Linked DNA regions of Homo sapiens. The protein of the gene in region 3 interacts with the protein of the main gene of each other region in a pairwise test. Each region holds a gene or a part of one and is shown on either strand. Other genes may lie near its edges.

Region 1 (2,319 bases), on a different chromosome or scaffold from region 3:
ACAGCGCACTGTGACTGTGCACAGGACCTTCTCTACCCCTCCCACTCCACAGCTGGCCCTGGACTTGGAGGTGTAAAGGACACTGGCATTAACATCTGTCTTTCTGTTTCCAACCCAGTCTGGCATAGGTAGACCCTCCGGGATGCTTGTCATATTGAATTCCATGATTGAAAATAAATGGATAGTTTTCCAGATTCTATATATGAAGTCACTATATACCACATGTCTTAATCGGTTTTTGTGCTTCTTAACAAACAACCCCTAAAACTCAGTGGCTTATCACAGCAAACACAGACTTCTTGCTCATGTTATATGTGGCTGCAGCTCCCTGTGTCTTCTCATTCACCAGGGCGCACGGGCTGACGGGTGTGATCTGGAATGGGCCTTCCTGTGGCTGAGCAAGAGGCTCCGCTTGGATGAGGCAGATGTCACTTCTGCTCACATTCCAGCAGCAGAGCCAGTGGTGGAGGGCGTGGGGTGTGTGGCCTGTAGGGCGCACTGCAAGTCACACCACAAGGGCAGGTGTGTGTAATCACACAGGGGAAGAAGTGAAAAGTTGTGAACACAACACAATCTTCCACACCACAGTGTAAAAAAACAGCCAGTTGTTTTTAAATCTTTTATCAACATAGTTATAGCATTGATTTATTTTCCAAATCATAGTTGTTAAAAACAGTATTTACATTTCATCACCATCAACTTAACATTTTATGCATTCATTAGGATCATACAAATATATGAAGGTGAAAGTTCTGCTCTGTCCCCACTTCTTTCTGAAACCTTCTTTAGCCATGTGGCCTGAAAGTAGAGCCATAGTCCAGCTTGGGAGTCTAGTTCCCAAGTTGCCTGGTTCTAGAAGCCCAGTGTTTCTTGCTTGCATCAGATCAGAAACACACTGGGCAACATAAGAACATTCTTAACTTGGCTCGACTAAGAGGAAAGTCTTTGCTTACTTCAGGGAGCTTCTCCACCTTCCATTCTTTACCAATAGGGTTTAAAAGCTTTGATTAGAAGCCAACTTGATTTAGGAGTTCCCACTGGCAAAATAGGGAACAATATGAGCATCAAGGACATCTGCGAAGCACTGAAACACTCGAATGTGATTAAACGCATGACTTCATAATGATACAAAACAAAACACAAAAGGCTTTTGGCAGCAAGCCTGAGAGAATGGAGATCCAGCTGAGATGACAGCGATGGAGCGTATACTGTGATTCAAACGACATCATTACTTAGATGCTGCATGCACATAGGCTAATGTGCCCACAGATCACACACTTCCAACTCCTGCCAATCAACAACTATTGGGTTGACTCAGCAGTCTCCCAAACATACCACCTGCTCAAAATTCTTAAGCTCAAAGCTAGAATTATCTCTGTGACTAATACAGCATTTTCACGTTTGACATGATAGTAACTCAAACTAACTCTTTACCACATTTACAAGTTGCAGTTTTCAGCTTTAATTTTATTTTTACTATTTAAAAAAAGTCTGAACTCTATGCCTGTATTCAAAAATGAGGAACTGGAAGGTAGTTTGGAAAATACTGTTTTCCAACCCAGCTGGAGTCTCTCTCCTCTCAGCCTTCCTGCCTGGTAACGTAGACACCAAGATTCACACTGTGAATCACACATCTGTGAAGCCAGACGTGTGATTTCCAAAGCAGAGATCTGTCATTTCTGTCTCTAGGCTCCTTCTTTGTCCTGAAGACTGGCTTCAGGGGCTCTGCCAATTGACTTTCCTTTTCCACGACCATCGAGGAGTCCTTGTGTAGTCACTTTCACATTCTTTCCTGGTCTCACTCCTGGACCTCCACACACTGGTTTTTGGAGTGGGGCAATCCTACAGCCAAGAGCTATGTGAAAAAGGCTGTGGGGAAAAGAGAAGAGTGAGGGGAGTGGCAAGGCAGGGAAAAGCAAGCACAAAACAAACCAGCTCAGATCCAGACAAGAAGCTTTACTGGGTTCTGATGCAGCCTTCCTGGCTCTCTCCACTTAGTTGATTTCGGAAATAGTTCTGCAGTGGTTCCACACGATCCCCGTCCTTTGCTCCTGGTGAAGGAACTCATCATTCTCCACCCCCTTCTCATAATCACTACCTCCTGGAGAGATCAAGCAAGAGCCTATATATATTGCATATACATATATTAGCATATCATAGATAATGCATCTTTTATAAACAAAAATTTTCTGAATTTTTAGACAGGGGGATGTGGCCTAAGAAGCATCTGAACAATGGAGCATGATATTTCATAGATTTCAAATGTAAGGTGCATGGGTGCCATAGATAAACTGTAATAAAGCAAAAATATGTCATGCA
Region 2 (3,654 bases), on a different chromosome or scaffold from region 3:
TGACTGAATTGAGTCAAGTGGGAACTGTTGCCTGAGGACATTGCTTCTTAACTGGCAGGAACTTGCTCTGCACCCTGGAATATACTCTGAAGGCTGGGAGCAGTCAGAGGCCTCAGACAAATAATCATAAGAGTTAACATTTCCTGAGCGCTTACTACATGACAGGTACTGTGCCAAGGGCATTTAAAGCATTATATCACTTTTCACAGCAGTTCCATGAGGTAAATCTATCATCCCCATTTTACAGATGAGGCAACTGAGGCTAAAGATAAAGTACTTTGCCCAAGATCATACAGCCAGGAAAGAGTGGAGCCAAGATTTGGACCCAGGCTGGGCAGTTGCCATGCACATGCCCCTTACCTCTCTACTATGTTGCCTTCCCCCGAAAAGAGTGGTTACCTGTCTCTACCACCCCCAGCCTGGAAATGTGACCGGCACCCATGTTGGCTCTCACATCCTCATATTCTCTCCTAATGCAACTTCTTGCTTGGGAAATAGATATTGCTGAAGCAGGGTTGATTCAGGAAGGGCTTCTGTGATGGGCAGGGCGGAGGACTAGGCTGGGGACGGGTGCTGGGAGATTGCCGCCTGTTTCTGTCTTGCTGACAACATTTTTCCCCTCTCCGCACTGGACAGAGCCTCTTCTGTTCCTCTCCATCTGACTTCCTGCTTCCTCCTCTGGCTTTGGAGTGCCTGGCTCCTCTGACTACCTCTTCTTAAGCCCCCATCTCTTCTCTCTCACTCCGCTTGGTAAGAGGAACAAGGGTTCTGGGGTCTGGGCAAAGGGAAACATCTCCTGGCTCTAGCAAATGGGCCCCGTGAGAGTTGGGTGCACCCCTGAAAAGGTAAATCCACCCCGGGGAGCTCTACCAGAGGCATTACCACTCCCTAGCAGGGCATCTGGAAGTGGCAGTTATTTTCTTAAAACTTAAATGATAGTAAGCATACAGAATAGCGCACAGATCATGAGCTTGGTTTCCACAAGGTGAATACACTCATGTAACCAGTATCAGATCAGGAGATAGAATATTCCCAACATCCCATGTAACCAGTACCAGATCAAGAAGTAAAACATTCCCAGCAGCCCAGAGGTTCCTCTCCAGGCTCCCTTCTAGTCACCGTCCCTAGAGTAGAGGGCTGGGGCATTTTTGTTTGTCACAATCACTTCTGGGTTCTACTGGCATTGAGTTGGCAGAGTCTAGTGTCTGCAATGCATGGGACAGTCCTATGGTATAAAGAACTGTCCTGCCCAGATGCACTGTTGAGAAACACTGTACCTGCCAGGTCTGACCAGTGATGGGCTGCAGTGTGGCAAAGGCCTGGAGGACAGGGGTGAAGCTGCGTCTGTGGGTCAGAGTGAGGAGGGGCCTTCACTGCAATGCTGTTGCCACCCCCAGGCCTCCGGAATGCCCCCCGCTGCTGGGCAGTGATCCAGCCCCTGCTGTGTGCCGTATACATGCCCAAGTGTGAGAATGACCGGGTGGAGCTGCCCAGCCGTACCCTCTGCCAGGCCACCCGAGGCCCCTGTGCCATCGTGGAGAGGGAGCGGGGCTGGCCTGACTTCCTGCGCTGCACTCCTGACCGCTTCCCTGAAGGCTGCACGGTGAGTGCTCTGTGAGACAAGGTCCAGGCTCTCTGGGTTGGGCAGGACCGGGTATAGGGCAGGGTCCAGTGGGGAGCAGGGGAGCCCAGAGCTTTGTCTCCTGGAGACCCTGAGCCTACAGCCATGGGGTCAACAGGACACAAACTCAAACTGCAGCTCACTGGCTGGATCCGTCTATTAGGGATTCTCTATTTATTTATCAATGATCACATGTTCAGCAAAATGTTTTGAGCACTGGCTGTTGGGTGTTGTGGTGTTACGGGCATCACGGATGACAGGAGCCTATCAGGAAGTTTCTCATGTATGTTGGGAGTTAAGGCGCGAGCGTGTGAAACAGCTAGAGCCACCAAGACAGGGGACGTGAGCTAGTTCTGGGTGGTGCAGGAGAGGTCTTCAATGAAAATAATAACAGTAATAATGATGGTAATAATACTAATTAGTCCTGTTTACTATATGCCAAATGCCATTATAATAAGCTCATGCCTGTAATCCCAGCACTTTGGGAGGTCGAGGTGGGCAGATCACCTGAAGTCAGGAGTTCCAGACCAGCCTGGCCAACGTGGCAAAACCCTGTCTCTACTAAAAATACAAACATAAGCCTGATGTCATGGTGTGCGCCTGTAGTCCCAGCTACTCGGGAGGCTGAGACACGAGAATCGCTTGAACCCGGGAGGTGGAAGTTGCAGTGAGCTGAGATCGTGCCACTGAACTCCAGCCTGGGCTACAGAGTGAGACTCTGTCTCAAAATAAATAAATAAATAAATAGGCTGGCCAGACACAGTGGCTCATGCCTGTTATCCCCACCACTTTGGAAGGCTGAGGCGGGTGGATCACTTGATGAGGTCAGAAGTTCAAGACCAGCCTGACCAACATGGTGAAACTCCGTCTCTACTAAAAATACAAAAAATTAGCCAGACATGGTGGTGGGCACCTGTATTCTCAGCTACTTGGGAGGCTGAGGCAGTAGAATCGCTTGAACCCGGGAGGTGGAGGTTGCAGTGAGCCAAGATTGTGCCATTGCACTGCAGCCTGGGCGACAGAGCCAGACTCTGTCTCTCTCTTTCTATATATATAATATATGTTTATTCATTTAACCCTTAAACCATACCATAAGGTAAGTACTACCATCTTAGAAATGGGGAAACTGGCCGGGCGCAGTGGCTCACGCCTGTAATCCCAGCACTTTGGGAGGCCGAGGTGGGTGGATCATGAGGTCAGGAGTTCAAGACCAGCCTGGCCAACCTGGTGAAACCCCGTCTAAAATACAAAATTTAGCCGGGTGTGGTGGTGGGCGCCTGTAGTCCCAGCTACTCGGGAGTCTGAGGCAGGAGAATTGCCCGGGAGGCAGAGGTTGCAGTGAGCTGAGATCACGCCACTGCACTCCAGCCTGGGCGACAGAGCGAGACTGTCTAAAAAAAGAAAGAAAAAAAGAAAGAAAGAAGTGGGGAAACTGAGGTACAGAGAGGCCAAATAATTTGCCAAGCCAGCCCTGGGATTCAGGTCCTGGAAGTGTATCTCCAGCCACCCTGCCATGCTACCTAGATACCTTTCCCTAAACAAGAGGCTCGTCCCTGAGCTGCCTTGACACCGTCTTTTCCCATCCCTGGTGCCAGAATGAGGTGCAGAACATCAAGTTCAACAGTTCAGGCCAGTGCGAAGTGCCCTTGGTTCGGACAGACAACCCCAAGAGCTGGTACGAGGACGTGGAGGGCTGCGGCATCCAGTGCCAGAACCCGCTCTTCACAGAGGCTGAGCACCAGGACATGCACAGCTACATCGCGGCCTTCGGGGCCGTCACGGGCCTCTGCACGCTCTTCACCCTGGTCAGCCGCGGGAGGGCAGGCCCGGGGGGCCCTCAGCCTGGAACGTGGGAAGAGAGCCAGAGGGAAGGGGGGCAAAGAGGTCTTGGTGGGGGTCCCCAGGGAAGGGTCATGATCAGAAGGGTCTGGGGCTCAGTTAAGGGTGTCTGTGTCAGCAGAATAACCCTAACCTCACAGAATGGCCCACTTCTCTCTTCTAGGCCACATTCGTGGCTGACTGGCGGAACTCGA
Region 3 (4,266 bases):
TCAATGGAATATTATTCAACCATAAAAAGGAATGAAGTACTGATATACACTACAACATGGATGAACCTTGAAGTAATTATGCTGAGTGAAAAAAACAGTCACAAAAGGGCAACTATTGTATGATTACATTTATATGAAATGCCTGCAATATGGAAATCTCTAGAGACAGAAAGTAGTGGTTGCTTAGGGCTGGCAGGGGGTGGGCATGAGGGTGGGAAGTTGAAATTGGGGGGTAAACGGGATAACAGCTAAAGAAACAGGTTTCTTGTGAAATGATGCAATGTTCTAAAATTGACTGGGGTGATGGTTGCACATATCTATGAATATACTAAATATACAGAAATATATACCACTTATATACTAAAATATGTGCTACTTATACTAAAACTCACTGAATCGTATACTTTAAATAGGTGGCTTTTATGGCATATGAATCATGCCTCAATAAGGCTACTTAAAAATAACGTCTTGTTTAAAATATCCTCACACATCCGAAGAGATCTTATTCTTTTGGTTGTAAGTATGAAATGATTACAACAACCAAAGCCAGAACTGGCTTTGGTATTTAAACTATTGAAAATGTTCCAGGTTAACATTTAAGACTATGAAAATCTTGAAAGTAGAAAAAATTAAAATGAAGGCATCAAGGAACTTCCGGAGGACATAAAATGCAGTGATTGTTTAAGATGTATTGGGGGCATTAAGTAATTAGATTCATAGGGGTGGAATGTAAGCAAGGAGAGTTAAAGTGCTCATATGAAAAGCCTCAGCCTGGAAGACCCCCTTCTTTACCAGCTTGCAGTGATTCTGAAAGAACAATATTTCTTCATGTGCACTGTTAACCTTATTTTTAAGGAAGATAAAAATACCTCCCCCCTCCCAATATGATTCACTCCAGTAACAAATAGGAAGTCAAGTAAATGATAAAGGGCCAAACAAAAAGAGATTTAAGGAAACACATAAAAAGCTAAACCAGTTCCCAGGAATGGCTACTGGGAAGTTTCAGCAATCAGCATGTGTTACTGCTTTTTACAGGCAGAGCATAAGATGATATGATCTGTGCATAGCTCACAATTCCACTACTGAGACATTTCAACCTGTGTCGTTGTCAGTCCAAATAAAGTCCGTTTCTGTGTTTGCCTTGTGCAATATGCCAGTTAATCTATCCTAGCTCATTGCAGAGCTCCTGGTATGTGTGGTCTGGGGAGTCCATACCTTCCCTGACTTGAAGAACCACCAACGCCAGCGATAAGGAAATGTCCGGGTGCATTAGGAATATTTTTGATCCTCAATAAATCTCTGCTTCTTCCTTGACCATTGCAAACAGTCCGGTTTGCCATCTAGCTGATTCTCGGTACCTCATACAGCACTGTGCTCCAGTTTCAAAGCAAAAATAGGGCTAATATATGGTGGTGGGTGAGGGGCGGGGGTGAGGGGTGCAAGAAGAAAACAAGCAAAGGTTGAACTGGCTTTTCCTACAGAGCCTCAGATTTCAAAATGACTGCCGTAGAAGCTAAAATGACCCAGATTTGGGGGACAAGGGGGGAAGAGGGTCGATATTCATTCCCCTGCGGGGTAGCTGTAGCTTGATTATGGGCGTAAGGAACTAGGGAAGACGGGGTCACCGACATGAAAAGAGAAATAACAGGGAATGGTCTTTAAGTACCACGCACCTCTCTCAGTGAATCACTGCAGTGTCAGCCCTGCACTGATTCCATGATTTGCCAAACAGGATGAGGTAAGGCACAAGCCTGGAGCCCCCTCCTCCTCCTCCTCCTCCCCCTCCTCCTCCTCCCCCCTCCCCCGCGCAGAAAGGCGCATCCCTCCGCGAGGTGCACCACGCAGCCCCCCGCGGCCCTGGCTGAGGGGTGACGTCACCCTTCTGCATTGAGCTTCAAGGACCGGCGGCAGCACTGGATAGATGGGGAGTAGAGTTGGGGCGCTATCTCTATCACCAAGTGGAGGGGACCCTCTGCCAGGGCGCTGCGGATTGTGCTCATGCAGTGACAGAACCACCAGATAGGGAGTGTAAGGATGCAGGGAGGTGGGAAAGGAATCCAAAGACTCATCTCTTGGGTCACCAAGAAACCTCAAAGATGCCCCCGGCTTATGTAAGACCCTCTCCCTTTCGTGCGCCTCCACGCGGTGACAACGCCTGCTCCCCATCGTGCGCTTGGGAGACTTCGGTCGCCCTTGCCCAGCCAGGCAGGCACGGTGCTTCTGGTGCCTCCCTCCCGCAGCCCCGTGGGGTCAGGAATAACTGGGAATCTGAGATTAAACCCCACGCTCCCGTGTCCTCTCCTAGCCCGCCACAGGTTAGCTCCAAGAGGCGCCGCGAACCGGCTGGTAGGGGAAGGGAGAGAAAGGTGTACAGCGAGGAAAACAGACGAATAAACCCGCAACTTTCCCCAGGAGCTGACCCTATCCCGGGAGATTATAAAAGAAACTAATGCATTAACATTTTTTTTTTGGAAGGTCGACAACCTGCAGTCACCGACACTCCGCAGCCCCTTGCAGCCTGCGCGGAGCGAGGTCTAGGGTTCCAGCAGCCCCGACCCGCACCCTGCCATCCTGCAGCCCCGACCCAGCACCCCGCGCCTGTCTCCTTAAAGAGGGGTCCCAGATTTGATTTTTGGTTTGGGTTTTCCTCCCCACTTCTTTTCTCAGAGCATCATCATACGGACCGATGGACAGCGACTCGGCCACCGGCCCGGCGTGGGCACTTACCCAGAAGACGAAGGAGTAGATGATGAGGAGGGTTTTGAGACAGGTTATCACAGGTTTGGTCTCCATTCTCCTCGATGCCATACTACAGAGCTCCGGCGGCGGCGGCGGCGGCGGCAGGCGGCGGGCGGGCGCGCGGGAGGGGGAAGAGGCGGGGCGGGGCGGGGCGGCGCGGGGCGGGGGCGCGTGCCGCGAGAGGCCTCGTGAGCGCGCAGGCGAGGCCGTGCGCGTGCGTGAGCGCGCACCGCGCGGGGCTCCTACTGAAAAAGCCGGGCCGGGCAGTGACTGCGCATGCGGGAAACGCCGCCCGCGTTCGCAATACTGCGCAGGCTTAGACCCCCAGCGGAGGAGGGAGGCGAGGCCAGGCGAGGCCAGGCGAGGCGACACGGGGCGCGGCAGGACAGTGGGGAGGGAATGGGAGAATTTAGAGGCCGGGTCAGAGGTCACGGGAACCTCTCCCAGTCCGCCCTGGCATTTAGATTTCTGCTTTGTACACAGTTGGGCGTTACATTTGCAGGTATGCCTGCACCTGGCTATGGGAAGTTTATGGGTGCCCCGCTGCCCATCAGTCACGTTTCTGCATTTTGACACCCCCCAGGGCCTTCTCACATGGAAATGGCCCCGTAGTCATGTCCTTGGCAACCAGCAGGCCTTGTTTGTGCCAGGAACAGACAGGTGGCCAGAGATACAGCTGGAGGGATGGGCAGGAACGCCGGAGCTCAGACAGACCCCAAATCCTCGCCACCACAGGTATCTGCAGGCTCCTCCATTTTTCAGATTTGTCTTACATTTTGAAATAATAAAACGAAATGACAAGAAAGGTCTGTATGAGGCGTCATTCTTGCTGCGCATACAATGTTTAACAGAATACAGAAAAATGTTTAATATGCCTGAGAATCATTTGCAGCGCGCTAACAAGTACAGTCCACCTCCCTCCTGTAAAGGAAAGCTGCATTGAGGTCAAAAAATAATGTTCACAACCAATTTGGAGTTCCTCAAAAAGTTGAACAGAGTTTGCATATGATCTAGCAACTCCATTCCTGGGTATTTACCCAAGAGAAATGAAAATATATGCCCACACAAAACCATATACATGAATGTTTATAGCGGCATTATTCACAATAGCCAAAAATTGGAAACAACTCAAATATCCGTCAGCTGATGAGTGGATGACCAAAATTCGGTGCCTCCATACAACGGAAAATTATTCGGCCACAAAAAAGAATGAAGTACTACTGGTAAATGCTGCAACGTGGATGAACCTTGAAAATATGCTAAGCGAAAGACGCCAGACACAAAAGACCACATATTGAATGATTCATGTATAGGAAATATCCAAAATAGACAAATCCATAGAGACAAAAGAGATTAGTGGTTGCAGCGAGTGGGAGGCAGGAATGAGGTGACTTTTAATGGGTAAGCGGCTTCTTTTTAGAGTAATGAGAATGTTCTAGAATTACATAGTGATGATGGTTGCACAATACTGTGAATTACTAAAAACCACTGAGTTGTATACTTTAAGAGGATGACTTTTATGATATA

The links.
Region 1: the proteins of TSPAN7 (region 3) and CCR2 interact in a two-hybrid assay, tested with the Homo sapiens proteins (one large-scale study listed by BioGRID and IntAct).
Region 2: the proteins of TSPAN7 (region 3) and SMO interact in a two-hybrid assay, tested with the Homo sapiens proteins (one large-scale study listed by BioGRID and IntAct).

Annotation. Positions count from the first base shown.
Region 1 is NC_000003.12:46,359,227-46,361,545, reverse strand, and holds the end of CCR2 (C-C chemokine receptor type 2), read right to left. Parts: 3' UTR 1,870-2,319; coding exon of another isoform or gene 1,686-1,869; 3' UTR 606-1,685; downstream 1-605. UniProt on the Homo sapiens protein: Key functional receptor for CCL2 but can also bind CCL7, and CCL12. Also transduces signaling mediated by CCL13.
Region 2 is NC_000007.14:129,201,987-129,205,640, forward strand, and holds part of SMO (protein smoothened precursor), read left to right. Parts: intron 1-636; exon of another isoform or gene 637-750; intron 751-1,397; coding exon 1,398-1,603; intron 1,604-3,216; coding exon 3,217-3,426; intron 3,427-3,623; coding exon 3,624-3,654. UniProt on the Homo sapiens protein: G protein-coupled receptor which associates with the patched protein (PTCH) to transduce hedgehog protein signaling. Binding of sonic hedgehog (SHH) to its receptor patched prevents inhibition of smoothened (SMO) by patched.
Region 3 is NC_000023.11:38,560,089-38,564,354, reverse strand, and holds the start of TSPAN7 (tetraspanin-7), read right to left. Parts: upstream 2,814-4,266; 5' UTR 2,809-2,813; coding exon 2,728-2,808; intron 1-2,727. UniProt on the Homo sapiens protein: May be involved in cell proliferation and cell motility.